Linked DNA regions of Homo sapiens: region 1 is linked to region 2. Evidence: fine-mapped expression QTL. Tissue or cell type: whole blood. Region 2 holds a variant in brackets; the other region holds the start of a gene. All regions are shown on one strand. Distances are between the middles of the regions.

Evidence for each region. PIP is the estimated chance that this variant, and not a neighbour inherited with it, causes the effect.
Region 1: TEK starts here. The variant in region 2 is fine-mapped to the expression of TEK in whole blood (INTERVAL, PIP above 0.99).

The regions. Positions count from the first base shown.
Region 1 is chr9:27,107,738-27,110,505 of GRCh38, forward strand. TEK (TEK receptor tyrosine kinase) reads left to right here and starts at 1,488. Exons shown (of 23, transcript NM_000459.5): 1 at 1,488-1,905. The coding sequence starts at 1,854.
Region 2 is chr9:27,208,934-27,211,701 of GRCh38, forward strand. It overlaps TEK (TEK receptor tyrosine kinase), which reads left to right. Exons shown (of 23, transcript NM_000459.5): 16 at 188-298. It also overlaps the pseudogene RPL36AP34. Among named protein-coding and RNA genes, the nearest start is that of EQTN, 87 kb to the right of the region's middle. The variant A/G (reference allele first, on the strand shown) is at 1,294.

The DNA of each region.
Region 1 (2,768 bases), 100 kb before region 2:
AGGTTCAAACAATTCTCCTGCCTCAGCCTCCAGAGTAGCTGGGGTTACAGGTGCACGCCAGCAAGCACAGCTAAATTTTGTATTTTTAGTAGAGATGGGGTTTTGCCATGTTGGCCAGGCTGGTCTCAAACTCCTGACCTCAGGTGATCCACTCCCAAAGTGCTGGGATTATAGGCGTGAGCCACTGTGCCAGGCCCACTGTTTTTGTTTTTTTTTTTCGTGATGACAAATTTAAAGTCATCTCATAGGAATAGAAAATAGCTTTTTAGTAGAAGCTCTTGGAATTTAAATTGAGACTGAATGGAAAGATGAAAGAAAATAAACTTATTAACATTTAATGAGAACCTTCAAAGAACTAGGCATAGTACCAAATGGTTTTATATTTTTAAACCTCATTTATTCCTCTCAAAACACCTGGGAAGGAGATATTTTTGCCATTTCACAGCTGTTGAAACTGAGGCTCAAAAAGACTAAGTAACTTTTCTCAGCTACACATGTGGCTGAGCCAGTATTTGAACCCAGTTCTGTTTGCAGACAGAACCTGGGCTTTTTCACACCTGCAAACTGGAAACATTAATTGGTTCTTAAGATCATCATCGATGTGATAAAACCTGGGACAGAAATTAGTCAAGACTAGCTGCATCTGCCTTTTCCTCTGGTGGGTAGGAAAAGGAGGAGTATAATGATTTCCTCAGGCATGAAGGTCGATGATGAGCAAAGTGTATACTCTCTAATCTAATGTCATAATTCATATTGTGGAGTAATTATCTGGATAAGTGTAGGGTCTCTGACCTCATTCTAGATATTGTACATTCCATGGCTATTTTCATTTTGGTCCATGAACTCTCTTTGCTCTCATGAGCACCATTTTTATCCCAATCTAATCCTGTATGTTTGTGTTTTTACACAGATTAGTTTTTAAATGTTATATATAATTTGCTTCTGAAACACCATTGCTCAATGACTACCAAATCTTTCTCATTACCAAAATCCTTCTATGCCAACTTCTTCAAGAAATTTGATCACCTTTAGATGAATTGTTAATGAAAATTAAAGCTATAGCCGGCAACATGGGTATCTTTGGGCTAATGGCCAACCAACAGGCCATCTGTGTGAAAGAAAACAGGCTAACAATTTTGGACTCTGGTCTCTTGGGGCTACATTGAGCATTGACCTCACCGGTGCTCACTGAAATTAATTGCTTTTCAGGTTGTATTTTCTCATCACGGAAACCTTCTTCTCCCAATTCAAACCATGTGGGTTAAAATGAGAAAACAAAAGCCAAAACGGCTTCCCACACCCAAAAGCTCCTTCTGTCAGAGATCCCAGTAGCCCCGGGAGAGCTGTTAGAAGTCTGAGAAGGATTGGTCATCATCGCATACCATACATAGGTGGAGGGCTTGTTATTCTCAGTTTCCCGCCTATGAGAGGATACCCCTATTGTTTCTGAAAATGCTGACCGGGACCCACACTTCCAACAAAAATTCCTCTGCCCCTACAGCAGCAGCAAAAGCAGCAGCAGAAGCAACAGCAACAGATAAGTGTTTTGATGAATTGCGAGATGGATAGGGCTTGAGTGCCCCCAGCCCTGCTGATACCAAATGCCTTTAAGATACAGCCTTTCCCATCCTAATCTACAAAGGAAACAGGAAAAAGGAACTTAAAACTCCCTGTGCTCAGACAGAAATGAGACTGTTACAGCCTGCTTCTGTGCTGTTCCTTCTTGCCTCTAACTTGTAAACAAGACGTAGTAGGACGATGCTAATGGAAAGTCACAAACCGCTGGGTTTTTGAAAGGATCCTTGGGACCTCATGCACATTTGTGGAAACTGGATGGAGAGATTTGGGGAAGCATGGACTCTTTAGCCAGCTTAGTTCTCTGTGGAGTCAGCTTGCTCCTTTCTGGTAAGGTTTGGCTTTATTTTTTTTAATTTAGTATTTTAAAAAACAGAGTTAGTGATTTCTGGGTGCTCTCCCCAAATCTCATCAGTGCTGATGAACAAGGGGTGGCTGTAGCAAAGGCACCATTTCTCTGTGAGTCTCCAGTCAATATGTGTGGAAGGATTGAAATGCAAAGGCTCTGTGGCATGAACTGATTTTGCTAGTTTGTCTTCTGGGTGATTGGCCCCTGTGTTAGAAACTCTTTGAGGACCGATTAAATCATCTTATTTGAAGAGATCCCCTTACTATCATGCATTATTTTCCTGCTCCTCATTCTGGAGTGTTTTTCTTATTGATTTTTTTTTTAAAGAACAAACCGGTTTTACCTGCTTTAAAGAAAATCTTCAGTAAAAAATGAAATTCATGCTGAGAAATACAGGGGCCCAATTAAGGCAGTGTATAGATTGTCACTGTTAAAAGGGAACAAAGATGCTTTTCTGTAAAAAGATTTTATATCTACATCCTATTTTAAGCAAAGCAATGAAATTGTAGGCTTTTTTTTTTTTCTTGTAGTTAGGGTCAGGGAGATTGGGGCTATTAGAATTTTTGTTTTATTTTAAAAAATGTTTGCCATGTAGTAATTCATAAAGGGTTTACTGGCCCAATGAAACAAAAATTTAGGCAGTTACCAAAATCTTTAACACAGGAGAGTATATGAAGCCTGTTGTAGAGTGAAGGAGTGGTTGGCCAGTGTGTTGGGTTCAGCGTGTTTATTGCTTAGATACTCCAGATAGTGGTGTGCCTCTGTAGCTCACTCAGCCTATGTGACATAGGTAGAAGGCAGTATCCAAACCTGAACTACATATCACAAATACATTTATCATTGC
Region 2 (2,768 bases):
GCAAAGGAATTATCAGCCCAGTGTCAATAGTGCCAAGGCCGAGAAACTCTACTTTAGAGTAATCTCTTTGGTTGTATACAGTTGATGGTGACTGAGGGTAGCTGAAGGTTCTTAGGGGGCAGGACGGGACAGCTGATTCTGAAAAGGTGTAACAAAGAAGAATCACAACCCTTGACTTTCTTCCCAGAATATGCCTCCAAAGATGATCACAGGGACTTTGCAGGAGAACTGGAAGTTCTTTGTAAACTTGGACACCATCCAAACATCATCAATCTCTTAGGAGCATGTGAACATCGAGGTAAGATGCTCTTTTCCTGTCTTTCCTGCCAGAGTTTTTATAAAACAGACAAATTCCATATGGATATAAGGAAAGATAATGATCTTAAGAATGTTGCCTATTTTTTTTAAAGTTGCATCTTCTATCTGAATGTCTGTCTAGTCCCATTTATAGACTGTGCTGTGGTTTGCCTTGTTTTTGGAGGGAGGTGCCGAGGCTGGACTATTTAGCCTCTGATGTGGTTCAGCCATTACTGCCCAAAGGTATTCATGGCTCCTACCTGCCCCATCCTTGGCCATGCAGAGGTTTTCTCCACTACCACTACTATTATAGTAGGGGAGCCCCCACCATCAGCTTCTTAATTGCCTACCTTTACATTTTTCCTGGAAACCCAGGGAATTGGTATTCTGAATGTTAAAAGCCATGAATGCCAGCAATCTAGTGTAATATGAAAACTAAGGATGGTTGGATTTTAAAAATAATTATAAGAAGCTTTCATGCGATAGTGCTTTGTTTTTATCCAGAATGCTTTCATGTACAATTACAATGGAGCTTTACAACTATCCTGTGTTGCACATGCATTTAAAGTTAAATTTATGTTATTAATTCAAATGTTTATTGAGTACTTTCTACTGTAATGCATGTAATTACTGGTGAGTGAGTAGGTAACAACAAAAATCCTCTATGGGTTTACCTCTGCATGCAGCATGGCCTTGTAGTTCTGAATCTCTGCTTAAACTTCACTTCTCGTGGAAAAGTTTGCTCCCACAAAAAGCTCCATGCAGTAATTATTTACAAACTTGACAGCCTCTTGTTGACTTTGCAGCACAAACACCAACAATAGAAAAGAGACTACTTCCATTTCCTCAATTTATTAAACTAAAAATACTGGTGCTTCAAACAATTTATCATTCTATGATCCAATAAGGGTGTAATTCTGAAAGCCAGATCATGTCCCTTAGGTTAAATAATGAAGTAATGACATTTATTTTTTGAGCTACTTCCTGAAAACAGTA[A/G]TGAGCATGGCACAGGAGTGTAAATGAAAGTTACACACACACACACATACCACACACACACACACACCCTGCTGTCCTTGCTGATAGCACTCCCACAAACATGGTGAGTGTTCTTAAAACCCGCCTGACTTTCTGTACAAACCCTACAAATGACACAGTACAAAAGGGCAAGGATTCTCTGGATGCCCAGGGAAAGTGGTGTTATGACAGGAAGCCAAGTGGCCGTGGTGGACAGACTAAACCAGTTTTCTGGAAAAAGGCTAAAACTACAAAGAAGACTGTGCTGAGGCTTTAGTGTTGACCCCACTGCAGATCTAAGAGAATGCTGGCTCTTAAGGGATCCAGGCACTTTGCACTAGGAGGAGATAAGAAGAGAAATGGCCAGTTGATCCAGTTCTAAGTTTCAGCTTTTGTTTTATTCTGAGGACAATAAAATCTTGAGGTTACGTTTACTTCATCTGGTTGCAGTTGGTCTTTAGGGAGAGAATAAACCATGATATTAATGCAGCTTCCTTCTTGGGAAAAAAAACCACAACAACAAAAATATATCCCTTAAAATTTTGCTTCGTCATCACATTAGCACATAGCTGGCTCTTAAAATTTTAAGATAGGCCGGGCGTGGTGGCTCACGCCTATAATCCCAGCACTTTGGGAGGCCGAGGCAGGCAGATCACAAGGTCAAGATGTCGAGACCATCCTGGCCAACCAACATGGTGAAACCCTGTCTCTACTAAAAATACAAAAAATTAACTGGGCCTAGTGGCGCATGCCTGTAGTCCCAGCTACTCGGGATGCTGAGGCAGGAGAATCGCTTGAACCTGGGAGGCGGAGGTTGCAGTGAGCCGAGATCGCACCACTGCACTTCAGCCCAGGCGACAGAGAGAGACTCAGTTTAAAAAAAAATATATATATATATGAATATATATGTATGAATATATGTATGTGTATATATATATATGAATATATGTATATATATGAATATATGTGTATATATATGAATATATGTGCATATATATGTATTTAAGGTAAATTACCTTTATCTTTATTAATAAATACATATTTAAATTATTTTAAAATAATTCAGTAAAGATGTGAGAAAGCACATGTATACCATAATTTAGGTCTAACTTTCATTATAGTGCAACAGGTTTCAATATTACTTTTCTTTTTTGCTAGAATTTCAATTTCTTAGAAGATCTTTCAAGCTTTTTTTTTTTTTTTTTTTTTTGAGATAGATAGATAGATAGATAGGGTCTCACTCTGTTGCCCAGTCTGGAGTGCAGTAGCACGATGTCAGCCCACTGCAACCTCCCCATCCCTGGGCTCAAGCAGTCTTCCCACTTCAGCCTAAGTACTCCCAAGTAGCTGGGACTACAGGGATGCACCACCATGCTTGGCTAATTTTTATTTTATTTTTATTTTTTGTAGAGATTAGGTCTCAGTATACTGCCCAAGCTGGTCTCAAACTCCTGGGC